Linked DNA regions of Homo sapiens. The protein of the gene in region 5 purifies or fractionates together with the protein of the main gene of each other region. This does not show direct contact. Each region holds a gene or a part of one and is shown on either strand. Other genes may lie near its edges. The genes, in order: NSUN2, NFASC, KIFBP, TPD52L2, ACTR3, CD109 and ARHGAP17.

The links.
Region 1: the proteins of ACTR3 (region 5) and NSUN2 fractionate together in Homo sapiens (co-fractionation; one large-scale study listed by BioGRID). This does not show direct contact.
Region 2: the proteins of ACTR3 (region 5) and NFASC fractionate together in Homo sapiens (co-fractionation; one large-scale study listed by BioGRID). This does not show direct contact.
Region 3: the proteins of ACTR3 (region 5) and KIFBP fractionate together in Homo sapiens (co-fractionation; one large-scale study listed by BioGRID). This does not show direct contact.
Region 4: the proteins of ACTR3 (region 5) and TPD52L2 fractionate together in Homo sapiens (co-fractionation; one large-scale study listed by BioGRID). This does not show direct contact.
Region 6: the proteins of ACTR3 (region 5) and CD109 fractionate together in Homo sapiens (co-fractionation; one large-scale study listed by BioGRID). This does not show direct contact.
Region 7: the proteins of ACTR3 (region 5) and ARHGAP17 fractionate together in Homo sapiens (co-fractionation; one large-scale study listed by BioGRID). This does not show direct contact.

Annotation. Positions count from the first base shown.
Region 1 is NC_000005.10:6,622,604-6,626,891, reverse strand, and holds part of NSUN2 (RNA cytosine C(5)-methyltransferase NSUN2), read left to right. Parts: intron 1-1,222; coding exon 1,223-1,328; intron 1,329-3,606; coding exon 3,607-3,678; intron 3,679-4,288. UniProt on the Homo sapiens protein: RNA cytosine C(5)-methyltransferase that methylates cytosine to 5-methylcytosine (m5C) in various RNAs, such as tRNAs, mRNAs and some long non-coding RNAs (lncRNAs).
Region 2 is NC_000001.11:204,974,806-204,979,093, reverse strand, and holds part of NFASC (neurofascin isoform 1 precursor), read right to left. Parts: coding exon 4,271-4,288; intron 3,824-4,270; coding exon 3,676-3,823; intron 2,424-3,675; coding exon 2,299-2,423; coding exon of another isoform or gene 2,270-2,298; exon of another isoform or gene 1,948-2,269; intron 1,414-1,947; coding exon 1,369-1,413; intron 127-1,368; coding exon 25-126; intron 1-24. UniProt on the Homo sapiens protein: Cell adhesion, ankyrin-binding protein which may be involved in neurite extension, axonal guidance, synaptogenesis, myelination and neuron-glial cell interactions.
Region 3 is NC_000010.11:68,987,474-68,991,602, reverse strand, and holds the start of KIFBP (KIF-binding protein), read right to left. Parts: upstream 2,801-4,129; 5' UTR 2,771-2,800; coding exon 2,345-2,770; intron 476-2,344; exon of another isoform or gene 1-475. UniProt on the Homo sapiens protein: Activator of KIF1B plus-end-directed microtubule motor activity. Required for organization of axonal microtubules, and axonal outgrowth and maintenance during peripheral and central nervous system development.
Region 4 is NC_000020.11:63,874,877-63,879,164, reverse strand, and holds part of TPD52L2 (tumor protein D54), read right to left. Parts: intron 3,350-4,288; coding exon 3,290-3,349; intron 1-3,289.
Region 5 is NC_000002.12:113,959,143-113,963,430, reverse strand, and holds the end of ACTR3 (actin-related protein 3), read right to left. Parts: 3' UTR 835-4,288; downstream 1-834. UniProt on the Homo sapiens protein: ATP-binding component of the Arp2/3 complex, a multiprotein complex that mediates actin polymerization upon stimulation by nucleation-promoting factor (NPF).
Region 6 is NC_000006.12:73,702,703-73,706,202, forward strand, and holds part of CD109 (CD109 antigen isoform 1 preproprotein), read left to right. Parts: intron 1-3,500. UniProt on the Homo sapiens protein: Modulates negatively TGFB1 signaling in keratinocytes.
Region 7 is NC_000016.10:25,008,505-25,012,792, reverse strand, and holds part of ARHGAP17 (rho GTPase-activating protein 17), read left to right. Parts: intron 1-4,288. UniProt on the Homo sapiens protein: Rho GTPase-activating protein involved in the maintenance of tight junction by regulating the activity of CDC42, thereby playing a central role in apical polarity of epithelial cells.

The DNA.
Region 1 (4,288 bases), on a different chromosome or scaffold from region 5:
GGTTTTCACTCTAGCTACAATTTGACGCATGGAAACATTGTGAGCCTGCATTGTTAAATTGAGTGTATTACTGCATCTCAGGTTTAGTGAGAATTGCTGAAACTACACTAAGATTTATGGCCGTGTGACGTGGTACACTTGGTTTGGCATTGGATTGAGCATGGTGCTGCATGACATCAGTGTGCTCATTTGTACGGTGCAGATGCCTGTATAGGTGCAGGCCAAGTTTCAAAGCACATCCTGGGTGGGGTACAGTGGCTCATGCCTGTAATCCCAACACTTTGGGAGACTGATGCGGCCGGATCACTCGAGGCCAGGAGTTCGAGACCAAGCTGGCCAACACGGCAAAACCACATCTCTACTGAAAATACACGTCTGTAATCCCAGCTACTCAGGTGGCTGACTGAGGCATGAGAATTACTTGAATCCAGGAGGCAGAAGTCACAGTGAGCTGAGATTACACCACTACACTCCAGCCTAGGTGACAGTGAGACTGTCTCAAAAAAAAAAAGGCAGTGTTTTTAGTATCCCCCATTTCTCCCCTAATTAAAAAAAATAAAAAAAATAAAAATAACATTGATGTCATCATTTATAGAAAGTTCAAATATATTCACAGATATGATGGCAGGAAATGCTTTATTCTTAGTTATATATAGGTAACAGCCTAGGAGCTCAAGTTAATGCATTAGTGGTTTCCAAGGTAGGATTTTTTTGGTATGTAAAATATTTTAGTGCATTATTGAACTGGTGTTAGAAATAATGAAAAATATATTTTTTAAAAAACTAATCAGGTATTTGTGGGACACTCTGACACTGCATTATTTTGATTCTGTGTGATCTGCACATTAAGTAAGTCATCTTGTATCTTTTTTTTCTGATGACCTTACCATTGTTACCTTATAATGGTGAAGAGCAGAGGAGTGTCCGCTTTTTCATCTGATCTCGAGCGTTTCATCATTATAATTTTACAGTAATATGCATAATCTTGTAACCCCCATGGCTCTCCTGTTTCTGATTGGGCCACGGTGTAGCTAGAGCCATGTTCCTTAAGCCTACAGCGACATCTCTGAGTGTTGCTGACTGTCCGTAGAGGATTGTGAATAGGAGCAGGGAGAACAACATTCGAAGTCTCATTTGGCATGCGACTGATAGAAGCACAAAGTTGTCAACAGACGACTTTAGTATTTATAATCCATAAATGTTTTGCTTTCTTTTTGGTCAGGTATCCTGAAGAACTTGCCTGGCACACAAATTTAAGTCGAAAAATCTTGAGAAAATCGCCACACTTGGAAAAGTTTCATCAGTTTCTAGTTAGTGAAACAGAATCTGTAAGTTGATTTCTTTAGACTTGCTAGTTTCCTTAAAGCTGTAAATGCATAGATGTAGTGTAGTTCTGTTTTTAGGTTCTTGTCACTAGAAGCAGTAGGTGGACATCACACACAGTAAAGACAACTGCAGTGTGTGCACCACCTGTGATTTCTGATTATTTGTATATCCGTTGCCTTGTTTGGTTTATCTAGTCATGAAATTTAGTAAGGATATCGATGCCAGCTAGTTAATTTCTTGTTTCCTCTTGCTTGTGTATTTGGATGGCTATAGGGTTGGGGTGAGCACTGCACTCTCATTTCCTTCTTAGGTACACATTTCAGATGCCTGTTGTACATAAAAAGTAGTATGTTTTTAAGGCCATCTTGGTAGGGAATAGGTTTTTGGTTCTGTTTTTTAAAATTGATTTATTTTACTAAAAATGAAGCTTTTGATTTTACTTTTTACTGTGTTTTTTTTTTTTCTTACCACACATTGCTCTTGGTAACCACAAAACACCTAAGCACCACAAAACCCCTAAGCACAGCTTTGGTCCTCACAGGACGGCATCTGTCTTCACATTCTCCGTAGCCACCCACATTCCTTGAGTGCAGTTAAGGTGCTGAGCTTTTTACCTTTAGCATCAGAGCATCCCCAGCAAAACAGCTATTTGCTTATGTACTAAATAATTCAATGAATGCCCATAAAGTTTGGGTATTTTTTTTGGAATTCTTAGTCTCACATTTAAAATCAGAGGTTTCGTCCTTCCTATTTTCTAAACTACTACCTTCTAGTAAATCTGTGTGTCACCAGATTATGGTTCTTTTTCACTTTGGCCTTCTGTCATCTAAGTAACCGACTAAACTGGGCTTGTGTCTGCCTGGCTTTTCCTTCCTGAATAGTAACAAGAACCAGGAACTAAGTGCTGCCACATAACCCCATTTCGTACTTGAGACCAGTGCACGAAAGGATTCTCTTGCTCAACTTTCAATCTAGATGGAAGGCCAAATAGAGATCAGTAAGCTGCTAGAGAACAGCTCAGGTTTGCACTTGGAAGAGAGCGTGGGGTTTGTGGGGTGTGATACACATGGATAGGTTGGAAGAGCCAGGTTTTGGCATGTTTGGAAGATGGAGGAGATGGGAGTTTAGGGTGGGTAGCAAATGTTGTAGGGAACTAGTATAGGTTTTTGATTAGGAGTCAGCGTGATGAGAGCTCTTGAGATGAATGGCAATAACCTCTGGGTTATGGAAAGCTGGCCACAAAACATCTACACAGGGTGGTCATGAATCTGGTTACTGTCTGCCGGGATGTCCCCATCTTACTTAATGCTTTAATCAAAACCTTGGATGGATACAGAAGGCAGGCATATCAGGATCACACGTATAACTCAAAAGCTTGGAATCAGTGTGCCTAGTGAGTGAATCACCACAGACTCATGCTGGCCAGAAACCCATGAGGTGAAAATTAGCAGCCATCAGTGTAAAAGCCTGTATTTAAGGCTCTTGACAGTCACATGCCTGAGTTTAAGGTGAGTGATGGATGCCTGGGTGGCTGTTCATTTCCAGAAGTCCCAGCTTTTGTAGGGTTGTGTTGGAGCAGAAGCCTCAGCTTCAAGGCGATTAAAGTAGAGGTGTGGTTGAGGCTAGTGCTGGGCAGGGCAGGAGGATTTTGTCTGCACCTGAATAGTTCTGCCTTGTAACAGATGTCCTGGCCGACTAGAGAAGACAGAGGGCAGGGAGTGTGGTGAGGAATTTTAGATATTGAAGGTCTAAAGATGGAAAGATGGAAGCAGTGGTTGATGTCTTCATCTCTTTGAAAGGTAGTTATGAGAAATAGAAAGTGGGCATGGGCTATGTCTGAAAATAGTGGAGGACTAAGAAATAGAATTTTAGGCAAGAAGGAAAAACCATTTGACAGTCACTTTCTGTCCTAAGTTGATGCTGTCTGTTGAAGGTATTTGTTTAAATATTTAATAGCATTTCTGTCTTTGAGAGCTGCCCCTCTAGCTTCTGTGCTCTACTGCTATGGGGAGTTGGGGCTCTGTAAGCTTCAAGTCCCTTTTCTTTCATGGAAGTTGGTATTATACCTGAATTTCTAATATTTGAATGGTATAGCAACCATTTGTCCGCTAGTGTACAGATCCATCTCATTTAGTGTTCTGTGTGATAGTATGAGTTCTCTCATTCTGTATAAGATTATGTGCTGTTTTCCTGTTGCCTTTGAAACAATGCCAAAGATTGAAATTGTCTGCGGTTTTTTTTTTTTTCCTAATTGTTGCTGATTTTTTTTTTTTCCTCAAGGGAAATATTAGTCGTCAAGAAGCTGTTAGCATGATCCCACCACTGCTCCTCAACGTGCGGCCTCATCATAAGGTAGCATATAGCAACTAGAAACGTGGGGGCGGGCAGCTTGTTACCAGTGTCATGCCTGTTTGTTTTGATGAAACCATTTTTTCTTAATATAATTAGTCCTTTTTTTCTTCTTTTCACTTTGGATAGAGAGTGATATGTACGTATCTTAGTTTCTTTTTTTTTTTTTTTTCTTTTTTGTCCTACTTAATTTTTATGGTTTAGAAAATTTTCTCCCCTTTAGTTTTACTGATTTGTTTACCATATGGATTGTCTTCAGTGATGGTGATTGGCTAAATTAGGTTGAAAATGATAGTGAACATGTATTGAGAGCTCATTGTATGGCAAGCATTACTCTGTGCTCTTTTTTCTTTTCTTTTTTTTTTTTTTGAGATGGAGTTTCACTCTTGTTGTCCAGGCTGGAGTGCAGTGGCGCGATCTTGGCTCACTGCAACCTCCGCCTCCTGAGTTCAGGCAATTCTCCTGCCTCAGTCTCCCAAGTAGCCGGGATTACAGGTGCGCACCACCACACCCTGCTAATTTTGTATTTTTAGTAGAGACGGGGTTTCTCCATGTTGGTCAGGCTGGTCTCGAACTCCCGACCTCAGGCGATCCGCCTGCCTTGGCCTTCCAA
Region 2 (4,288 bases), on a different chromosome or scaffold from region 5:
TTGGGGTGCAAGGCCCTGAGCTACCTGTGATGGGGCTGTTGTTAGCATCCCCGGGGATCCAGGTCAGCCGCACGCTCCTCTCGGCCAGGTCGGTCAGCTCCAGGTCCCGGGGCCGGTCTGGCCGTCCTGGTGGCAGAAGACACCACGCAGGCCTCCTGAGTTAGAGCAGGTCCACCCTTGTGATGGCCCTAGCCCTGGACAGCTCCCTGACGGGCTGTCTTCGCTACCAGCTGGATCCAACCCCAGCCTGCCCTGAGGGGTGAGCACAGGGACCACTCCCTTCCCACAGGGGCCCAAGGGAAAACAAAGAGGAGACTCCTGAAATCCCAGCCCCCCCCCACAAAGAATATCAATGGGTGTGGAACAAGGAAATAAAGGGGCTTATGCAGACAGAACTGGGACCAACGCCATTCCGTCTTGGTGGATCTTCTGAGAGTGCAAGCATTCAGGAATGCCACCCGTCATCAGACCCATGCTCACGACACTTAGGAAGGCTGATGAGGGAGTGTGGGATTCTGTCCCATTTTCTCACATTAATTGTCCTCTACTTTGTGTGCCAAGGCTCTGAGGAGATGGGAACCCAGGAGAGGGCTTGGCCTGCTGAACATGGCAGATGGGTTAGGGGAGTGGGGGCAACAAAGAGAGGGGATCAGACCAGGGAGGAGATGGAGACTTGGCTTAGGCATTTCATTGATGGACAGCAGGACAGAAGCCTAGCAGGCTTGCAAACAGGGGTGAGGGCAGCACCTTTTTTAGGGCATGAATCTCACTGGGACTGCTTTAGTGGGTCTAAGTGCCATCCTGGCCTGGGATAAAGACATCGGCTACTGAGTGGTACGGGTAGGCAAGATTTTCTCTCCATCTTGACTCCCTGAACCAGGTATTTCCATCTTTCAGATGGTCACTAGAAGGACTTGGAAGGTGAGTCCTACAGGCCCACGTTCACGTATGTGTGGCATGTGTGTGTAGATTGTAAATGGATAGAAAGCAATAGATGCAGGGAGGCTGAACAATGAGTTTCCAGGTGATGTGAAGGGAGCAGGCTTTCGCATTCCCTGCAAACAGGACCTGAAAGACTGCTGGGAGGACAGGCCACCCTGAGGGAGCGGTGAGTGTGGATGGAGGCAAGGGATGGGGTAAAACAGCAGCCGAGAACTTCCGAGCTCACCCTGTAAGGAGCAGGAAGCCCAGCAAAGGGCCGTGGGGAGGTGGACGTGGGCAACTCAAAGGAGGTCCCATGTAGCCAGGAGTGCTGCCCACAAACCTACACACTGTCGCCCTTTCCCAAAGTGGCTTCCTTCTCCCAGACTCCACACCCTGGGTGCCAAGAGAGGGCACTGGCAGGGGACTGTGATTAGTGGGAATTACCTTTGGGCAGGGCAGCCAAACGGTTAGTTGGAGTGGCCTGATCAGCTGCAAAGGTAAGACGGGTTATCCAGGTTAGCAGGTTATCCAGCATTAAAGGTGTTCTAGAAGGATGGGGGTAGGCAGCCGAGGCTTAAACAGCTGCCTCTGGGCTGAGGTGTTCTAGGCAGGGCTGTCCCCGTCCTTCCATGGGGAATCCCCTACCCTTATAGAGGCCATCTGTGTTTCCTCCACAGCTGGGGGCGGCACCTCTGTTTCCTTACCATCCCAATGTGACTATCGTGTCTGGGCCCACCCTCTCTGCAACTGTGCCTCTCCACTGCGCCAATGCTAGTGGCAGTAGGGCACCCACGGGGAGGCAGAGGTGACAGAGGACCTGCTTGCCTGGAAGGGAGAGGCCTCCTTCCTCTTGGTTTGGGTTAGCTTAGTATTTACAGTCCAGCCTGGGTGCAGGACAGGAAGACACAACGTCATCTTGCTTAGTGCATAGCATGTGATGAAACGCTACCAAAACCCAGGGATGGAGCGGGAGGGAAAGGAAGGCTGGCAGAGGTCATTGGAAGCACAAACACAAACTCAGTCTTGCTTTAAGGATGGATTGTTTTAATTGACTTAGTGGTGGAGTTAGCTGTAAGAAAGGTAAAATGATCACAACGAGAAACCCCTCTCCACTTTCTCTATATCACTCAGGCCCCTTTCAGTTGAGACGTGGGGAAGTTAATGACTCCACTCAGGAGGTAACCTGTCCAGCACAGCTTGTTCTGAAACTGGCAGCTCCCTAACCCTGACATCACGAGGCAAGAAGAGATCACCACGCCTGACCCGGCCACTTGACTGCAGGCACTGCCCTCGGAACTGCCCCGGGCCACTGCTTCTCTGGCTGCTGGGGAGGGGGTGGGGCTGGTCAGTGCCAGGGTGAGCATGGGCAGTTACCTAGCACGGTGAGGTAGGCCTTGGCCAGGTCTTGGTCTAGCTCGGTGCTGGCGACACACGTGTAACTGCCCTGGTCCCGCTCTGCCACCCCAAAGATGGTCAGGGAGTCGTCTTCCTTCTTCATCCTGCAAAGGTACCGAGGAAGGGTTGGGAGGAGGGGGTAGGGGAGTGCTGAGTCCTGCCCATTGCTTTCTCCCTAGAGGGGGTTCTCGAGTCAGGAGGGCAAGGGAAGCTCCTTCTGGGGGTATGAGGCTCCCTCTCAATGCTTTGACAGAGGTGAGGTCTTCACAGTCACCTGGAGCACTCATCATACTTGATGGAGGGGAACAGAGAGTGGGCGGAGCTCAAGTGGCTGTGAAGCACGTTTGCCACCTTCAAATTCTGTACGTGTGCCTGCCTCTGTGCCTTTACTGTGCTGTGCACCCCTCCCAGATGAGGGCACCATGAGGCCCATGACCCCAAGGTAGGTTGGTATTCCTTCTCCTCTCATACTTGTAGCTTTGTCTGTCTTCAGCCCAGACTTGTCTCCTCTGCACCCATGCTCAGGCCAGCCTGACCCCAGGCTCCTGGGAACTGTCTCCTATAGAGAGGGGAGGCCACAGAGCAGAATGGGGCTGTAGAGCTGTCAGCACTGAGTGCCAGAAGGTTTACAGAGGGGAACACCCTCTGCAAAAAGTCAAATGATGGCTAGAAACCGCTGGTACCGTGTCCAACTGCAGGGCCCTGCACAACTTTGCTCCCTCGGGGTGGAAGAAGGTAAAGCAAAGTAAGCCCTGGGGAGGGAGGCTCGGAACAGTGGTTCTCAACCCTGATGCACACTGGAACCCCCAGGGGGACTTTTAAACCCTGCCAGTGTCCTAAGTCCTACCCTACACCAATGAAATCAGGGTCTGAGGAGCGGGGCAGGCGTGGGTGTGGTAAAAGCATGCCAGGTTCAGTCAGGGCTGAGAGCTGGCTCAGATCAACCCTGCCCTCTGCTGAAGATTAGGGGTACTGCAAATAGGGCTGAAAGGCTGGAGCCTGGGATGCAGCAAAGGAGGAAAAGAGAAGACAGGGGCAAAAATGAAAGGGAAAAGAGGCGAAGTGAGGGGAGACAGGGAGAGGAGAAGTGAAGAGATTGAGAAGAGGGAGAGAGAGGAGGTGTAGGAGAGAGAAGCAGGGAGCTGGTGGGAGAGAGGGAGGTTGTACAGGGTCGGTGGGGGGGTCTCCCCTGAAGCAGGGGAGTTGCCCAGGCCATCACCCCCTCTGCAGAAGCTCCTTGGTGACATGCATGACACGGGTTCCCTGTCCCTGTGTTCTTCCATGTGTCACCAACAGCAAGGGAAAAGAAAATGCGCCTCAAACTAGCACTAGGAAGGGGGAAGGGGGAAGAGAAACCTGTTTCCAATATAGAGCGGCTCGTCATCCTTCAGCCAGGAGACGGTGAGTTTCAGGGAGGGGTCGTGCTTCACCCGACACTCCAGCTGCACCGTGGTGCCCCTTCTGGCCACCTGGTCCTCGGGCATCCGGTAGATCCTGGTGGGGTCTGTGGAGAAGCCCAGAGCACTCGCCACTGGCCTGTTCTCTGCCCAGCATCCCCATGCGGCCACAAAGTGGCATATGTCTGCCCTCGAGGCCTTGGGCCAACTATGGAGTGGGGCACAAACAGTATGCTATGGTATGAACGGAGCAGAGTTCTGGGTGGGTAATCCCCAAAGCAGATAATGCCCCAAATCCACTCCATCTGGCTCAGGAATATATGATGTAATTTCTGGGCTGGTAGTGGGGAGTTGGTGTGAGCAGAAGGTTTCCCTTCCTAATTCTCTTTGGACCACACTGATCCTAAAAGGACTCCACAGGTGCAAACTGGGCAGCCCACTCCAGGTTAAAGACAGGTGTGGTGCATTTTCAATGTGAATATTGTATGTGGATAACTGCCAGCATGGCCTCCTTGTCCCTCTCCAAACTCCCACTGGCGAACCCTCTCCTTTACCTTTGACCTCCAGGCGGA
Region 3 (4,129 bases), on a different chromosome or scaffold from region 5:
GTCAGCTAGCTTTTTGTACTGCACGTGATGACCTCCAGCACTTGCTGCCAATGCCTTAGCTTTGTCAAGTGCTTCTGGACCAGTGCATGTCTCCAATGTTATTCATTTCTTAGTTCGGAGACATCGACATCCTCATTGATAACTTGCTCTGGTTTCTGGACAGATAATTGCAATCTTTTTTGTAGGAAAGAAATATTCTGTCTTGCAATATCCAGAAACTTGTGTATACACCGATCAACACCAGTTCCAATTTCTTCCTGATTGCTGCCATTGACATAGTCCTGACTTAACGGAGAGGCAAAGCAAGTCTGGAAAGATGACTCCATGTCATCCACCAAAGTACTGTTAGAAGGTCTCAGAGGCCCTGGAGCTGCTGGTAAGTAAAGGAAGCCTGGCCCCAGAGCCCCGGTGGTGGTTGGGGCCCCGATGGCTGCCCAAAGAACATACTGCCTAGCAAAGCAGCCATGCCTGGAATAATTTTTTTTTCTTATTTTTAGTAGCGATGAGGTGTCACTATGTGCCCAGGTTGGTCTTGAACTCCTAAGCTCGAGTGATCATCTCATCCCAGCCTCCCAAAGTGCTAGGATTACAAGTGTGAGCCACCACATCCGGCCTTTTCTACATAATTCTAAATATGGCTTATAGTCTTCTTCCTCCCTCTTCATATTGCCAATTTTTGTTAATATAAATTATTATTTTTAATAATTGTGTACTGTTCTTCTGTTTGGATGTAACGGAATTTAATCATATTCCTACTGACATTTATATTGTTTTCCTTTTCTTTGCTTTTTGAGACAGGGTCTCACTCTGTTGCACAGGCTGGAGTGCAGTGATACAATCTTGGCTCACTGCAGCCTTGACCTCCTGGGCTCAAGCGATCCTCCTGCCTCAGCCCTGCGATTTTCCTTCTTTAATAATCAACACTGCTGTGATAAACATCCATGTTCACCTGTCCCAATATTATTTTAACTTTTTAAAGTATTTTTCTTTTTTTCACCCCTTCTTTTCACAGGTGTTGACCAATATTACTTTAGAATATTGATGTGGATTTTGTTGTTGTTGAGAAAAGGTCTTGCTCTGTCACCCAGACTGCAGTTGCAGTGGCATGATCATGGCTCCTCCAGGGGCTCAAGTGATCCTCCCAGCTCAACCTAGCCTCCCCAGTAGCTAAGACTACAGGCGTGTACCACCATGCCTGGCTAGTTTTGTGGGTTTTTTGTTTTGTTTTGTTTTGTTTAAGAGACAGAGTCTCACTTTGTTGCCCAGGCTGGTCTTGAACTACTGACCTCACGCCATCCTCCCACTTCGGCCTCCCAAAATGCTGGGATTACAGATGGGAGCCACTGTGCCCTGCCCAGATTTATTTAAGAAACCAAGTACCATATAAATGGGAAACAAAAAGTATTATAAGAATTCAAAGGTAGGAGGGAGAGATCAGTTTGGCCCAAAATGGTCCCAAGAAAGTTATTAATACTAAAGGAAGTGATTCTTGAGATAGGTTTTCAAGAATGGGGAAGAATTCCCTAAGATGCAAACAAATGAATTTGGTAAGAAAGGAAGCTGCAGATTTTGGACATTTTATTTTGAATTAAGAATGTATTCCGAGCCAGGCACAGCGGCTCAGGCCTGTAATCCCAGCACTTTGAGAAGGTGAGCCAGAAGGATCACTTGAGTCCAGGAGTTCAAGACCAGCCTGGGCAATATAGTGAGACCCCCATCTCTACAGAAAATTAAAAAAATTACCAAGAATGGTGGCATGCGCCTGTGGTTCCAGCTACTATGAAGGCTGAGGCAGGAGGACTGCTTGAGCCCAAGAGGTGGAAGCTGCAATGAGCTATGATGGTGCCACTTAACTCGAACCTGGGCGACACAGTGAGACCCCATCTCTAAGAAAAAAACAAAAACAAGACAAAACCAAAAAAGAATGTACTCCGGTCATTGTCATTTCCTTGAGACGTTAAGATTTAAATTACTTTGGATTTTCTTAACAGAATGAACAGGAGTTGGACTGGTGGAGAGGAAAGCGCATGACGATGTAGGAGGGTCTCGGACACCAATGCATCGCCACGTCTAAGTGAAGCAGCAGCAAGCGATATTGGTGTGGGCGACGAGGGTGGACACGGAGTCTGGGGACGGCCGACTGTGGGAGATCTAGTTACAAGGCAATAAGTCCATAAGACTGGCTTTTTTGAAGACCACAGACGCTCTTTGGGACTCAGTCCAGAGCTACAAAAACGTGGGGACGAATTGCGCCTTACAACGTCTGCCCTTGGCCTTGGCAGGGGCTCCTCCCCATCCCTCGCCATTTGCCAACAGGGGCCGGCCTGGCCGGGCTCGCTCTCACCTGCGCCTGGATGCAGAGAGAGATGCAGTCGTGCGAGAGCCGGTACCTGCGCAGCAGCCGCAGGCATTTCACCAGGTGCTCCTCCCCCGCCGACAGCTCCTCCGTGTCGATGTGGTTCACCCCGAGGTGGAACTCGATGACTGCCAGCCTCACCGCTCGCTGGGCGACGGGCCCCTCGGGCTCCACCACCTCAGCCGGCAGCCCCAGGGCGTGGTCACCGGCACCCGGGCCGTCCTCGGCCTCAGGCCGCTCATCCTCGTCCTCAGGCGCAGGGCCGAGCAGCGCCTTGACCTCTTCCAGTAGCGCCCGGGCGCTGTATTTGGACTTGTATGGTTCCTTCTCCGGATTTTTATGCAGTTCCACCCGCGACAGAGCGAGCGCCGCCTGGAATTTCTCGCAGACCTCTGCCCACGGAACGTTCGCCATAGCGGCCTCTACTGCCTGGCTTTCCTCAATGTTTGCAGTCGGGACTCCCGCCTTCCTTCTGCTTTGCGACACTTTACTTACGGCTCTCGACACGTTGCGGCCGCTGTGGAATGGGAACCAATATAACCCTCCCGGAGAACCGCAATACGCTCGGCAATGACCAATGGGAAGACGCAGCAATCACCACAGCAACCATTCTCATGGAAATGAAGTTGTCAATGAGCGTGTTCCCACCTCCTTCCCCGCCCCCTGCAGCGGTGAGTTTATCTCCAGATTGACCCTGTGAGGATGGATTTATATAAATGTTTAATATCGGCTTACTTTAACGAAGCATATCGGAATATTGTTTACAAACATAGCTAGCTAACTCTACTCGCGTTGATATGAACTGAAAGGCAAAAACCTTTAGACATTAAGTGTATAGCCCAGCCTGTCACTGGATAAAACTTTTTTTAAAAAAGGCCAGGCGCAGTGGCTCATATCTGCAATCCTAACATTTTGGGATGCCAGTAACATTTTGGGATGCCCACTGGAGTGGGCAACATAGCAAGACCCATCTCTACATAATTTTTTTTAAAAAATTAGCCGGGCGTGGTGGCGCGCGACTGTAGTCCCAGCTACCATGGAGGCTGAGGCGGAAGGATGGCTTGAGCCCAAGAGGTGGAGGTTACAGTGAGCGAGACTGCCTCAGAAAAAAAGAAAACACGAGCATTAGAACAAATACCTAATGTATGCGGGGCATAAAACTTAGCTGACAGGTTGATAGGTGCAGCAAACCACCATGGCACATGTATACCTATGTAACAAACCTGCATGTTCTGCACATGTATCCCAGAACTTAAAAGTAAAATAAAAGAAAAAAAATTGAAATGTAGCCAAGAGCTGATTATTATCATTGACACATAATCTCTTGATCGAGAGCCATAAATATACAAAACACTCAGTGATAGACAAATATTTTCACTTCGACCCTGAAATACAGGTTGTAGGAATCTGTACAACTGCCCAAGGTAACAAGAGCTAAGTCCCACAGCTGTGAAAGCCGCCTCATGCCTTTTACCTTCCTAAGTTATCAAGTCAAATGGGGAGGGGTGATAGAAGATTTTAACTATTAAGCACCAGCTGTGTACAGTGCTTTGAGACATACAAAGGAGCATTGATTTTGGGAGCTCATAGACATATGGTTTGAACCTCAGACCAACCAGCTTTCTTATTGACAAGTTAACTTTTTTAAGCTTCAGGTTTCCCACAGTAAAATCTGAATGATACTACTTACCTCGACAGAATTATTCTGAAGAATAAATAAAATTAAACGTCTATCCTTTAAGTGTTAATGCTCCTAAAAAGTCCTTCCTAAAC
Region 4 (4,288 bases), on a different chromosome or scaffold from region 5:
GCCACCACCAGCGCCTCCCTGGCCTTCTCTTCCTACAGCAGGTCCCTGCCCAACAGCTGTGGCTCTGACCTCTCCCTTCCCCTTCTCAGTCCCATCCTGGGCCTCCAAGGTGGCGGCAGCAGCTGTGAGGCCCCCTTCCAAGGCTCACAGCGCTGCAGGCCTGTTCTGAGAGCGTCAAACACACAGGCACACACATTCCTCAGTGGACCAGAAGGCTGGGTTGTTATTACTCCATGACAGATGGGGAAGCTGAGCCCGGGAGGAAGGGGCAGGGGTCAGAGCCAGCATCTGCACCCAATAACTAGCTTCAGCTCTCCTTGAGAGCACCGGGCCGGGCAACCCCAGCCAGCACCCATTTGGGAGTTCCTAAGACCTTCTAGGAAGAGAGCCCTGGACAGACAGCGGTTTCGTCCCACTGCCAGTGAGCTGTCCCCTGGGCAGCACAGGGCATCTGGGGGACATCCTTGCACTCCCCCTCTCCTGAGTCTGTCTCTGGGGGCTGCCCCCACTCCCACTCAGGATGGACAAGTGATCCAGGCCTGGCCAGAGCACACCACCTCCAAGGCCGCAGCCATTAGTCCAGGGAGACCCATATGGGGCCACACTGTTGGGCTGCAGCAGTGGGGGCAGGGACTTCTCTGCCTGGTGAGTGCTCCCACCTCCCTGTTTGGTTGATGCTACCTTGAGTCGTGCTTTCTGTCACCTGCAACCAAAACAACTCCAAGTGAACCAGCTCATAACTGCAGGATCTATATGATGCCCCTCTCAGCACTGAGGTTTTTAGTTACCTCTGCCTATAAATAGAATGCAACAGGCAATTGTTTCACCACTCGCAGAACACAGCTGCTCTCGCATTCAGACATGACCCACTGAGAATGTGGCCGCATTGCAGCCTCATGGGGCCAGGCACCAGTGCTATCCTCCACCCACCGGCCACGTTCTCCTTCCCGTCCATCCTCCAGGGCGCCAATAGCTGAAAGGATCTACAAACACGTGGGTCAGGATGCAGGGAGCTTTTACTGCCTTCCCCTGCAGAGCTCTGGGCAGTGGAGGTACATCTACAGCCCATCTCCTGAAGCTGACTAGGAGAGGCACCAGCCAGGAAGAGCACGCGCCATGGCCACATCCTCAGGCCCCACCTCCCAAGCCGCATCCCTTCCGTCTGGGCCGTCCCGGCAGAAACCACCGCCCTCGGCCTCGGCCGTCCCGGCAGAAACCATCGCCCTCGGCCTGGGCCTTCCCACCAGAAACCATCGCCCTCGGCCTGGGCCGTCCCGGCAGAAACCATCGCCCTCGGCCTGGGCCTTCCCGGCAGAAACGCTTCCACTCTGGAACCGTCAGTTGACAGCTCTCGCCACAGAACTCAGGGGAATGGCCTCGGCCAGGTGATGCACTGGCCATATGCTTCCATGCTGAGCCACAGGTTTCTCCAGAGGGGTCGGGACGCTGAGTGTTGTAATAAGCTCTCTAAAACACTATTTATTTGAAATAGGATCCCGGCAGCTTTATGTCAGTTGGTTTTACAAAACAGCACTGAAGTCTCCTAAGACTATTTTCAGACTGAGTCTGCACTGTGCGTCCGCCTGATGCCCAAACTGCAAGGATGACCGTCACTGTCCCAACCTAGGAACCATCTGCTGCCCAGCAAAGTCACTGTTCAACAGCCCGAGACACAGCCCACCAGGGTCCCTAGAACACCCTGCTCAAGCCGGGTGCAGTGGGTCACGCCTGTCATCCCAGCACTTTGGGAGGCCGAGATGGGCGGATCACGAGGTCAGGAGATCGAAACCATCCTGGCTAACACCATGAAACCCTGTCTCTACTAAAAATACAAAAAATTAGCCGGGCGTGGTGGTGGGCGCCTGTAGTCCCAGCACTTTGGGAGGCTGAGGCAGGCGGATCACGAGGTCAGGAGATTGAGACCATCCTGGCTGACATGGTGAAATCCTGTCTCTACTAAAAATAGAAAAAATTAGCCGGGCGTGGTGGCGGGCGCCTGTAGTCCCAGCTACTGGGGAGGCTGAGGCAGGAGAATGGTGTGAACCCGGGAGGCGGAGCTTGCAGTGAGCCCAGATGGCGCCACTGCACTCCAGCCTGGGAGACAGAACGAGACGTTGTCTCAAAAAAAAAACCAAACAAACAAAAAAAACCCAGGGCAACATGCCATGAACCACCCGGGTCCCCAGAGCACCCAGATGTACAGCTGGCTGCTGTAGCCATGCCCACAAACCGCCCGGGTCCCTGGAATACCCAGGGCAACATGCCGTGAACCGCCCGGGTCCCCAGAGCACCCAGATGTACAGCTGGCTGCTGTAGCCATGCCCACGAACCACCCGGGTCCCTGGAATACCCGGGGCAACATGCCGAGAACCGCCCGGGGTTCCTGACACCAGCCTCCCACCGTGACACCAGACGCAAAGGCTCCATGTGCACGCAGTGCCAGCCTGGTCCCCCAGGACCTTCAAGACAAGCTCGGCAGCAACTGCTTCCTTTCAGACCAACATGGGAGGACTTTCTGCCCATGTTCTGTGGCAACGATTACAGCGCTTCCTTCTAAATAACAGATGAAAAAATCCCACAGAGACTATTTAAAAATATTCCCCTCCTCAGTTTAAAGACGTTATAATCAGATCAGAGCACAAGTAAATGAAGTGCTATTATCTAGTTTAAGGATCTCCAAATATTAGGAGTCACTCTGAACAACACCACTGACACACACATACAAAACTATCCACACTTGATCCACACTGGCTGATGCTCTGACAATGCAGTGCCTCCCAGATCGTGAGGATTTCAAATTTCCACCAGCATATCCTACACCATGCCCTCCACTCAAGAACTACCCCTAAAGGAGGAAAGGAATTCTGAGAACCCAACAGCTGGAGCTAAGCAGGGAAAAGGGTTAGGGTTAGAACAAACAAAAATTCGCCACCAACAAACCCAGGCCAAGTGGTGTTGTCCAGCTTGTGCACTGCCGGAAGCCAAGGAGCTCTATTAGTTAGAGATACAGCCAGGACCAGTGCAGGCCTCTTACATAAGGGACGCATATCAGGCAGAGGGGAGTTTTAAGTGTGGTCAGGTGGCTGAGTGAGTTTCTCTCAGCTACTATTCCCTGTTCCACAAAAGTTTAAAGGATAGTTTACCTGAGAGAAGAAAAGTTATAGGAAGAAAAAATAGCCAGCAAATACCAAAACAAGCTTTGTGCCAAGTGTGCACAGCCCCCTTCCCCGACTGAGTGTCAGGAGGCGGAGAGGAGGAAGGAGGAGGTGCTGATGATACAGGCACTCACAGGTCTGACTGGGTCACTTTCTCATTCCACTCTCCAAGTTTCTCAGAAGTTTTCACATAGCTAAAAACAGAAAGTCTACAGTGAATTATTTAGAAGAACAATTTTAACTCAGGCATCAAACTGCAGGTGAAGTTCCAGGGAAGACAGAGAGGGACCAGCTGGCAGGAACATCAACTCCACAGACGGCCCAAAAATGGGGTCCACTGCCTCAACCAGGCCCTGTGCAGGCCCCAGGCCGCCAGGTGAGCTGTGGGTATAGCGGAACTGATGTTCCCTTTTCTGTCACCTGGCAGTAGCCCCTGGTCTCTCGCTAGGAGATTCTTGGGCAACAGCACTGCTGTGGGGGACTGGAAGGGCACAGCCCACAGCTCCAAAACACCCTTGGGATTCAAAACTTACGATGTCCTAGGACAAAAACATGGGCCTCTCATATGTGAGATTTATGAAATGTGACCTGTTCTGTCTTTGTATAGGAACATGTCTTCTGGGAAACATTCCACAGCCACCCCAACCTTGAAGGGTATGTTTCAGAGAAGCCACGTGGACAGGGCCAAGTGAGAAAGCAGCACTCCCCAAATTCAGAGCTGAGCGACATCTGGGACAGGTGTCCCAGGGTTATAGGACCACGTCGTCATGTAGGACCACGTCGTCATCGGGGAGGGTCAGAGTCCCTAGGGTTGTGGGACCATATGGTCCTATATATAAATATATATATATATATATTTTTTTTTTTTGAGACAGAGTCTTGCTCTGTCACCCAGGCTGGAGGGCAGTGGCATAATTTTGGCTCACTGCAACCTCCGCCTCCCGGGTTAAAGAGATTCTCCTGCCTCAGCCTCCCTAGTAGCCGAGATCACAGGTGCGCACCACCACGCCCAGCTAAATTTTTTTATTTTTTAGTAGAGACAGGGTTTCTCCATGTTGGTCAGGCTAGTCTTGAACTCCTAACCTCAAGTGATACACCCGCCTCAGCCTCCCAAAGTGCTGGGATTGTAGGCA
Region 5 (4,288 bases):
AATGTGAACGACCTCAAGTATGCCCCGTGGAGAAGCTAAATTAGGCAGTCTGAAATCCCCATAGTTTTTCTGTATATGGAATGTCGTTTTTAAGAGCTCATTGCCTATTCATAAAGTCCAATCCAATCTCAAAAAGACTGCTGAGTTTTAGGCTCCTTCCTTAGTTCAGCACATTAGCCTGGTAACTATCTGGTAACTATAGTATCAGACATGACTTGGTCATCTGATACCTCCCTCTAGTAGTCTAGCACAGGAATCTTGCTATCAGCTTTCCCAATAGAATGAGTCAGAGAAGCTAAGAAATGTTGCCAAATTAATTTTGAAAAAAATTTAATAAACCATATGCTATTCAGTAAAATATCAAAAAAATTATAACCAGTAAGTTCTATTCTGCAACTACCTGTGTGGTCTTTGCAAAGTCACTTTTCCACAATGTTATTTATGTCAATCATGTGTGTGATTTCACCCTGAACTGCATCAACTTTTTTAGCCAATGTTTGTGTTTGAGGGTGTGTTTGAAGGTGTCAGATATCCTTCAGTCTTCTCTCCCACTCTTCTCCTCACTTCTCCTAATCACAATATTCTAATCCCCTCCCCAATTGCTGTAACTCAAGTTGCTTCTGCCATATCTAAAATATCATCCCCACCTACTCTCCATCTACTAAAACATTCATCTTTCAAGGTTTGGGCTAAGAAAAATCAGTCTACTGCAGTAGAAACTACCCCACTAGTGCTTTAGTCATCTCATGAATGTATACATTATTCCAACTAATCATTTTAGCATTTAAAACAAGTCTCAGATTTTCTTGTTGCTCAGGAATTTATTTGGGAAAGATCCCATGTACCCACAATAAGAAAAAGATGTGTGGTTCCAATTCCGATATCGACTTTCTAATATAATTCCAAATAAGATTAACAATTTACTGCAACCTTGAATCTTATTAATTAAAAATGGAGGAAGTTTAGAATTAAGTCATCTCTAAATCAAGTGGTTTAACATGGGATCTGGACAATATCAAAATTGATCAATAAAAGCCAGAGGGAGAAATGAGGCCTGTTTCTACTGTTAATGTTGAATGTTACATTTCAGGACATGTCAATTACCTTGTACAACAATCTGATTTAGAGCCTGTGATCATTTACACTACAGAGATTTTGAAATGACTGAAGGCTTAGATAATTATTTAAGACCTGCTTCAGAAAAGTCATGATCACTTAGTAATCCCCCACTACCTTACGCAGAATGTCACTTCTAAGGTAGAAACTAGTGGAACAGAAAAAAAGTCGTAATTCGGTCATATTTGACAAATATGGGTATTTTGAAGGAACAAAAGTTGTATACTCATGTAATTCAAAGTTTTATTTTAACATGAAAAATAATTTTTACTCATTCATTCATCAAACACATCCACTAAACTACTATATGCCAAGCAATATGTCAGGCACTGGAAATATGAAATGAATAAAGCAGATGCTACTGTCGAATTACTTTCATCTGTTGTTGGATGTAACACTTAGGTAAAAATTTTAGGAGCAAAGTACTAATTTTTAAACAATAGATCCACTTTTATAAGCCCCACTTTCACCTTACATAGCTGGACTTCTCCCTCTAAACAACTAACACTACCATTTTTATGAAGAGAAATTCCGCACTTACTATCTCTCAAATCTTATCTAGGCAAAATATTTGTCCCTCCTCTAAGAGTGCCTTTACTATTAGACTAAGCCAAGGACAGAATATTTATTCATCTTTATGCACAGTACTTGAACCACAGTAGACAGTCAATCAATGCTTCTGGGATTGAAGGCTCAAAACTTGATGCAATATATAGGTAATATAAGTGAATGTTGGTGCTTGAATAAAAGAGAAACTTTATTTTAATTCAGCATCTTAGTTTTAATGTAATTATAAAAGTCACCAAAAATTGACAGAACACTAGAAAACAAGTAATTGCTAAATCAAAATAGAATATCGTATACTTTTAATCTTTCATTTTTTTTCTTTCAGGTTTTTCAGTTGCCTTCTTTCCTAGATCACGTATTTCTATCGTTGTTCCTTTTTTATTGTTCCTGTGACCACTGGAGCACTAGTAATAAATCCTTAACTCAAATAGGTTATATTTAATTTCAGCACCCAAGCTCCAAATGCATCAGCTAAACTGGGTTATAGCATGGAGAATACCTCAGACGACCACAGATTTTATTTTTGTTAAGATTCTATCAAGACTGAGGCAAATTATAATAAAAGTTCTCATATCATAGAAAACAAATTACGTGGAAAAGGATAAACATTTATACAGTACTGAAGCGTTATCAACAATGAGTAGCAGAAATTCTTTTTCACTGAAGTCCAAAAGCCATCCCAGCCCTCCAGCAGATCTAAAGATTCTTGCTAAAGGTCAATTCAGGATATAGACCTAATACAAGAACAAGGTATTTACTGTCAAGATTTGCTATGAAAGTTCCACGTAACTTGTAACAACTCTGTCCTTGGCCAACTATATATACAAGGTGCTGTTACAATGAAATATATTTTAAGGCACAGTATTCCAAACTGAGTAGAACATTTTGCTCCCAGAGTCTGCACAGATTTTGGATTATTTATACCAGCTAATAGAATTAGTACCAATTAACCCGAGTTGGAAATCTGGGTGGTAACAGACTTCAGAGGGCTATCCAAGGTACTCATGCCTGGTGACTATGAACTACGAAAGATCAGAAAGAATGGGTCACAGGAATCAAGGTTGAGCTGGTAAGAAAAGGGGGAAAAGACTGGACTTCAGTATTGACAGATTAGCCCAGAATGAAGAGGAACAAAAACATCCTTTACTATGGTACAAATAAGCTTTATAACACAAATAATCTTCTCAATAATTTTATAAACATTCTAGTATCATCTTTAGGGTTATCTGAAAGAAGTTTCTATAGATATATTCTCTAGTACTTTTCTGTAGAAATTAAAAATAAAGATCATAATTGGCCTATTATCCCTGTATTTCATATTATTTCTAAAAATATTCCTAGAAATATCTGCAAGAATAGTTATTTTAATCTTTTAAGTAGCTGTGAAAACAAACCAAAAAATTGTATTGGGGGGTCTGAATAACCACTTTATCTCCTATAGAAAAGAAGATAGGTAAGAAGAGGATGAGTACTTATAGTAGGTGCCATGAATTAATGTCTAAGGGTGAAGATGTGAAATTTGCTCACTTTTTGAAAAGCAGGCATCAAGTTAGATAATGATCATTGATTTTATTTGTCCATTACTATTTCCCACTTGATCAAAGCACTGCCTATTAAAAAGGATAAATCAGATAATACCTTTACTACCACTAATGAATCAATAGAAAAGGCTAGGTTTTGCAGTCAGAATCTACTACACTGCTAATATTGCTATTAATAAGCTACATTATATTCTAACAACTCAAAGAAATTGCAGGATAATCCAGTATAATGCCTTTACCTTATATATAAATTGAATCAAGGTCCAGAGAGTTCAAATAATTTGTCCAAAATAATACAAATATATTTTCCAAGTTTTAACAAAAAACAAAGTTCGAGGAGCTATATCATCAATTATCAGAATCAGAATTAAAAATTAAATCACTGGCTTCAGTTAGTGCTTTTGCTACCATGCTCACGTTGCTTGATATCTAATCAATGTTACAGACTATTTAGTTCACCTTGGCCAACCTCTACATATTTCCAGCTGAAGTTGCTTTAAGTTGAAAAAACGGTATACAATCACAGAGGAGAGATATAAAGAAACAAGAATGCTGCTACCATCCTATTAGGGTTCACTCCTCTAAAAGTAGAGCAAAGGGATATCAGAACATACACAAGAAGGGCTGGAGTTTTGTTTCCCCAAATAAGTTAAGCGTAAGCTTCAAGAAAGTTTTTGATCTTCATGTTTTTGTAGCAAACAGTTAAGAACATCTCTGTATAAATATGCCTGAGATTGTCATCAAATAGCTTTATAAACATGTCTTTCTAGCTTATTCACTTAACTACCCAACCATCGCCGGTGGAAAAGACATATTTATGACAATGCTAACAATATTTTATTGGGCCAGGAGCATGACATCTTTACTGCTTATCAATATAGTTCTTTATCAAAAGATCTTTAATAAAAGCAAAGTGCAGAACAGTATATACAGTAAGTTCCTATTTGTGTAAAATAAGAAAGCTACATTTATTTCTACCTACACAGAAAATTACAATACAAGGACATCTAAGACATTCCAAGTAGTCTGTGTAATGATGGAAAAATGAGACAGGCTAGGGAAAA
Region 6 (3,500 bases), on a different chromosome or scaffold from region 5:
GCAGTCATGATCTCACTAGGCTTCAGTTTCATCATCTGAAAAATAGTGGTTTCTGCCTTATACAATTATATGGATATTGTGAGGATTAAATGAGGTAACATATTCAAGGCACTTAACACAAAGGAATTATTCAAGAAAATGGTAGCTATTGTTACTAGAAGAGAGTAGCAACAGTTTATGTCAAAGGCAATTATTAATCACCTATTGTGACAATCTTGAACCGGGAACTCTATAAAAGACACATCCCTAGGAGGGGATTGGAAGGGATTTAACATATTAAATATCCAGTTTCCTCATAGTGCCAAGGACTTTATGCACTATATTTAATTTTAACAACTTGATGAAGTAGATACTCTTGTCTTCATTTTGGAGGTGAGGAAATTGAGGCAAAGAGAGAAGAATTAGTTTTTCTGAGTTAACCCAGTTAGTAAATGGTGAAGCCTGAATTTGAAGTTAGTTGTATCTGAGGTCCAGAGACCATAAGGTTTTCTATTGCTGGGAAGAGAGTGAAGTATTTTTATTTCCTTGATTTTGGGATATTGATGCAATGTTGCAGTTGTCTTCCACTAAAATCATTTTCACATTTGCTTGCAGTAGATAGACCTGGATCTAATGAAATCTAATTTGAATCGAAAGAATTACAAAATGAAATGCCAGCTCTCCTCTTAATTTACTTTCAGCCTCATAGAGTTTTGGAGCTGGAGGGGACCTCAAAGATAAGCAAATTCAATAGCCTAATATATGGCTGGGAGACTGAGGTGAGGCATGGGATCTGGGGATTTTCCCAAGGTCAAATCACTTATTGGTGGCAGAGCTGGAAACAGATTGCAGTTTCCCAAATTTGCAGTCCAGTGCTATTTCCAGTATACTCTACGAAAGTTTCCTAACATATGGAGAGCTGAGCTTAAGACCTAAGATATATTTACAAATGCTGATTCTTCTGATATGGAAGAAAATAAGGCTAACTAAGGAGTTTAAAAATGCTTACTTGCATACTGTGAAAGTTTCTTATTTTAGCTCAAGGTGGAGTTGCTCTTTATGCACTATTTGTTCTGTATAAGGGGTGGGGGCTGGGTTAGAAGCTTCATAGACCTTTTAAAAACTAAATTCTGTTGCTTTGTTTCTCAGAGTCCAAATTGTATTTATTAAAAAGGCTGATTCATGGCCTCCCTCAAGACATGGGTAAGAATCAAGAATCTCAGCTGGGTGTGGTGGCTCACGCCTATAATCCCAGCACTTTGGGAAGCCAAGGTAGGTGGATCACTTGAGGCCAGAAGTTCGAGACCAGCCTGGCCAACATGGTGAAACCCCGTCTCTACCAAAAACACAAAAATTAGCCAGGTGTGGTGGTGGGCGCCTATAGTCCCAGTTACTTGGGAGGCTGAGGCAGGAGAATCGCTTGAACCCAGGAGGCAGAGGCTGCAGTGAGATTGTACCAGTGCACTCCAGCCTGGGTGACAGAGCAAGACTCCATCTCAAAAAAAAAAAAAAAAAGAGAATCTAACCTTTATGTTCCACCATGACCACAGGTGATTCTTAGTCACATTAGAATGAGAACAACTGCCCTTTGGTATCTCACAAATTGTACTCGACCAAATACTGGAAAGCTCGAGGGTGAGTAGCATGCCCCTGCAAGCCTGTGATGATTCATGGCGGCGGAGGGAAGGCTCCTCGTGGACTTTCATGTTTGCTTTTAAGCAACCCTCAACCCTAAGCGCTGGTGTTCATTTTCAGCCGCAGAGAAACATGACTTGGGGTTTGATTGTGAATCAACGATTGGGTGAAGTTAAAAGTGAACACACTGATTCTTTAAACTCCAAGTTAAACATGTGCTGCTCCTCTTCTAGCACTGGATGAGTCACTGTCCTAGTGACTCACTGAAGGATTGTGGTGGAAATAGAAAACAGATCCCATAAGAATTTGGGCTGGGTTACTGTTGATCCTTTATGTCCTGTGAAGAGGGCTTTATAATGCTGAAACTAGTTGTTTCCCCACAGACATTTCTTCTCATTAATGTATTATTTATTGATTATTTGCTGTATGTGAAACATGAATGAATGGGGAGTGGGGAATAAGAGAAAGGAAGGCACTGGAGGACATTCAGAGGTCCCAGAAGGATAATATAATATTAAAAGTGCAGAAGGCTAGAGGAGTTTTTATTTTTTGTATAAAAAATACAATGCGGTTTGTAAATAGTGCTTCTTGTATGTGAGCCTGTGCCTGGTACTATTATCTTTTACTTCCAGAGCTATACAGATGTCCATTCATAAATGTCCCACCTCTGCTGACATATTTGGCCTTTGGAGGGAACAGTTACTTCACGTACTAGAGACGGGAAGGGTGTGCCGGAGGAAAGAGCTGCTGGCTGGTGTGGCAGTTATGAAAAGGAGATAGGGGTTTGTGTATATATTTTCTAAAAAGATGTTTCATTCTGCTTTGGATATGAGTTTGGGGAGACATCCAGGTGGAGATGTCCAGCAGATAGTTTTGAAATTGCAGCTGGGGAGAGAGATTTAGGCATTATTTTCATAGAGGCAGACAATATTTTGAAGTCCTGGAAATACATAAGATGCACAAGAGAGACAGAGCTCATGGAAAGAACAAGTCTTTTGAGAGAAGCTTGGAAAGAGGAAAATAAGTTAATGAAGGGAAAAAGACCAGACACAGTGGCTCATGCCTGTAATCCCAGCAACTTGGGAGGCTGAGGTGAGCAGATCGCTTGAGCTCAAGAGTTTGAAATCAGCCTGGACAACATATTGGAACCTCATCTCTACTAAAAATAAAAAAAAGGTAGCTGGACGTGGTGACATGTGCTTGTAGTCCCAGCTACTCAGGAGGCTCAGGCAGGAGGATTTCTTGAGCTACAGTTATAGTGCCGTTGTACTCTAGCCTGGGTAACAAAGCATGGCCCTGTCTCAAGAAAAAGAAAAGAAAAGAAAAGAAAAGAAAAGAATAGAATAGACAACGAGCAATCAGAGAAGGGTAAATTGAAAATGTCTCAGAAGCCAAGGGAAGAAGAAGTTCCAAGAAGGAAGGTTTAATAGTTAATAATCAATTCTCTCAGGTCAGAGAAGAGGAGGACAGAGGAAAGAACATTGGTGACGCTTAAGTAAATGGCTTTAAGTTGAATGTTGGAAGCAAAAGCAAATTTGAGGGAATAAATGGATGGTGAAAAATATAATCAAAATTTATTCTTTCCAGAAGTTTGGTAGTTGAAAGGAGAGAGGTGGACGGTCTCTCAAAAGGCACATTAGAAAGGTGAAAGTGGTTAAGGCAAAGGAGAGGGTGGATAATTCCTGGGTTAGAAGTGGTGAGATCAGTATTGGGGCAGAGGCAAGTGGATTATCCTTAAAAAACCCTCATACTTTCTTCTTTGAAGAAAGAAAGAAATAGAAGAGAATCATTAAGGAAAGAAATATTTTGAGGTATGAAATTGAGATGAAGAATAAAATTGAAATACAGTTTTAGGAAAACTTATTTACCGACTTGTAAATTGCACA
Region 7 (4,288 bases), on a different chromosome or scaffold from region 5:
TGAAGCTATTACAGAACTATTAAGGGTGTGGCAATTATGCACCCAAAGTCAGAACATCTGTTTTTAACTGGGAAACCTGTTGCTTCCTTGCTGTTGATTTCCTAGATGTGTGTGTGTATGTGTTTTCTGCTTAAGTAATCAGAAAGGACTAAGGAAGATAAACGGAGGCTGGAGAGTGCCTAGAATTGTTACTGCTTGGAAGTAGGTGGTTGGTTGGCCCCAGAATCAGGATTCTGGGTGTTTTTAGGTCAAGATGAAGGCTACAAAGCAAAGGGTTTTTTTGTTTTCGCCCCTGCGATCTAGGTGGAGAAGGAAGTTATATATGTGAATGTCATGCCCATCGTGTTTTGGTTTATCAATTTGTGGAATTCTAGGTGGTGTCTTGCAGTGAGATATTCTCCTCAGAAGGGAGACCTTTGAGTACTTTCACTGTAAGGTTCCAGGGGAGGGACTTGTAGAGAATTAGTAATGCCTGGAAGGAATGAGTTCGCATGATGCAGTTTGTTTACGATGGGTGGGTAAGTCTATTTGAGAAGACGGCCTGAAACTCACAGGGGCAAGGCTTATGAGGTGGTCTCATGGTGTGAGTGTCCCAAAGAAGAGAAGTAGGATGGTTCTTTTAGTCCACCTGCCTTTTGTTGATTCATGCATTCAACAGACACTTGTTGAGCCTACACTGTGTCCTGTTATCCAGGGTATTAAAGAATCAAAGGTGAATACGGGCATGGTTTCTGCCCTGAGGGAGCTCAGGAGATACGTGGAAGAGGTAGGCAGGCAAAAAATAATTATATACATGAGATAAGTGCTTAAGAGGGATGGCTAATGCACAGAGCAAAACCCAGCTGTCATTGGATTGAGGGAGGTAACAAAAGCTTCCCAGAGGAGAAAATCTGAGCACCTTTCTCTGCCTTCATTTTCAAGCCCTTATTTCAAATATCTCTTGTATTGATTAGGTCTCTTTTGGTTGTAAGAAAACCCAGTTCATAGCAAAGACGGGAATTGATTGGCTCATAAGTGACCAAAAGAGCCTCTAATAAGTAGTGTGGCTGCAGATTTGGCTTCTTCTGGGGGTTCCACTCTTTTTTTTTTTTTTTGAGACGGAGTCTGGCTCTGTCACCCAGGTTGGAGTGTAGTGGCGCGGCTCACTGCAGCCTCCACCTCCTAGGTTCAAGCAATTCTCCCGTCTCAGCCTCCCAAGTAGCTGGGACTACAGGCCTGTACCACCATGCCCGACTGATTTTTGTATTTTCAGTAGAGATGTGGTTTTGCCATGTTGGCCAGGCTGGTCTCAAACTCCTGCCCTCAGATGATCTGCCCACCTTGGCCTCCCAAAGTGCTGGGATTACAGGCATGAGCCACTGCGCCTGGCCTCGGTTCCACTCTTTAGGTAGGCACTGTGTCCACTGGGAGACTTCCACATCTTCCAAGTCTCAGAGGGAAAGAATACTCATCTCGCAGTCACTGTGGCCCGAGTCCCAGGATTGGCTCTGAATGCTTCTGGGTCACATGCCTTTCCCCAGAAATGGACTGGAGTCAGCGCACCCAAACCATATGGACTGAGAGTGGATGGTAATGGGTGGTAATCAGGCAAGAAATAAAGGTCATGGTGTGTCTTTTGTAGCCCTGCTAAAAAGAGAGATGTTTTGTTTCTTGAAAACCCTTAGATGCAGATCATCACCAATGGTGTTTTTGGGGAGATGATGTCTTGAGTAGAGGAAGGAGTACACTGGGATGAAGACCTTGAAGTTACAGAAGTATCAAGGAGAAAAAAAATTTGAGAGACAACTAGGAGAGCATAGTACTGAGGCTCTGATAGGGAGTGTCTCCTTGGGTGTTGATTTCTTCCCTGACTGAAGTTTCCCTTGGAGGTCTGAATGCTTTCACAGATAGTTGTTTTTTGAGAACCCAAGGTTGTAAACCCAAATGCCTAGAGGGCGAGGCCAGTAAAATGAATCAGTGCTTTGGGCCATGTGAAGGCCTCAGGGGACCTGGAGGACTGTGTCCCACCAAAGGGGCTGCTGTGGTAATGTAGGCCCAGTGTGGACCACCTGTGGAGTTTTCCTGAAATCTGCATTTTAACTAGCTGGCGTTTAATCCAAATTAAACTACGGGGACACTATATGCAGCTGAACAAAATATTTCTGTGGATCACCCAACTGCTTGTCTAGAAGGACTCAGAAATTGACAGTCCCTCTTTTTCATTTATTCCCCTGTACCTTACCCTGATGTTTTCAGTTCTTTGGATTTGTTGAAAAACAGCTCATCCTTTCTTTACTAAAATCTTGAAAAGGTCTGATAGTAACAGTCTATAACATTTCTATGGTGGTTTAGTTTACAAAGTGCTGTACTAAACCACCTGGCTTGGATTTCGTCTCCTGACAATGATAACTTCTCTCTGACAAAGATGGAAACCTGGCTGGGTGGGGTGGGGTGGCTCACGCCTGTAATCCTGACACTTTGAGAGCCCGAGGTAGGAGGATCACTTGAACCCAGGAATTTCAGACCAGCCTGAGCAACATGGTGAAACCCGGTCTTTACAAAAAATACAGAAAACTAGCCAGGAGTGGTGGTGTTTGCCTGTCTCAGCTGCTTGGGAGGCTGAGGTGGGAGGATCAACTGAGCCTGGAAAGTCGAGGCTGCAGTGAGCTGAGATCATGCCACTGCACTCCAGTCTGGGTGACAGAGCAAGACCCTGTCTCAAAAAAAAAAAGAAAAAAAAGAGGAAGAAACCTGACTTTCTAAGTTTGCACAGTTACTGAGTAGTGGCTGAGGCATGGCTTGGGTCCAGGGCCTCTTCCTGTGGTTCCCAAGTGCTTTTGAGTACAGGAACTGGGCTGCCTCTTCACCAGGGAAGGATTAGTGTTTATTAATGTTTATTAAACATCTTCTGTGCTTATGAAGCTGCTGGGCTTGGTGCTTTGCATACTTTTATTTCATTGCATTCTCATAGCCACCCTCTGAGGTGATGTTACTTATTTCTGATTTAATGATGAGGAAGCCAGAGATCAAAGAGGTCATCAAGCTCGCAAGAGACAGAGCCGTGGACCCAAACCCAGGTTTCTGATTCTGCAGCAGCTATAAATTCTGATCACAGAGATCTAATGACCTCTAGGAGTCTTCCACTCCTAGGAGGTATGTAGAATGGACCACTCACTAGGTAGTTGGATCCACTACCAGCAATGTGAATTCTCACACTGAGTCAAAATGTGTCTCTACCTACTGATCCCAGAACAGTCCCCTGCTGCCGAATTGAATGAATCTCATCTCTCTTCCCTGAGTCAGCCCTGCCTGTATTTGATGATCACAAACCTTATCCTTACGTTGCCAGCAGTAACATTCTGCATCCCTCACCCACTCCACTGTGTCCTTTTCCTCCCACTGATCTTCACTCTACCTTTCCTTCCCCCCACCCTTTTTTTTTTTTTTTTGACGGAGTCTCGCTCTGCCGCCCAGACTGGAGTGCAGTGGTACAATCTCGACTCACTGCAACCTCCACCTCCTGGGTTCAAGCGATTCTCCTTCCTCAGCCTCCCGAGTAGCTGGGCTTACAGGCATGAGCCACCAAGCCTGGCTAATTTTTGTATTTTTTAGTAGAGATGGAGTTTTGCCATGTTGGCCAGGCTGGTCTTGAACCCCTGACCTCAGGTGATCCACCCACCTTGGCCTCCCAAAGTGCTGGGGTTACAGGCGTGAGCCACCACGCCTGCCCACTCTGCCTTTTCTAGGGGAACTCTGAACAGTATTTCTGAGAAGGGATAGGTAATGTGTGCTTTGCTTCAATCTGAGTGGATTCCATCAACCTCTCCATAGAGCAGGGTGGAAAGAGGTCCTCTTGTCGTTGCAGCAGCTTCTCAATCTCATCTTTTATGGCCTTATTATGTAGTTTACATGTTAAGAAATCCAGAAGTATTTATAGTTGAGTGAAAATCCATTCTTTACTGGGGGGAAGAAATGAACTCTAAAACCATAAAAATGATGAACCAGTAGAAAATTTTCATCTGTAAATTTGAACCATAAAAGGATATGTTCATTTAGCATCATTTTTATATGTGTAAGCGGCATGTTACGCTATTATGGAATTGCCTTTGTAGCAGAGTGGACGAGGCAAAACCTTCCAAGTTTGATTATGGCCTAGGGCGCTGCAGTCAGTACGTGCACCGTGCATTTTTGTCAGACCACAGGATGTTTCACCTTTATCATTCTATTTCAGTTTCTCAAGTGTAGGTAGATGCTGTAGTAACTAGTGAAGTACAAATCCATGTAAAAATGTTAAACTCTCATCTGTTCG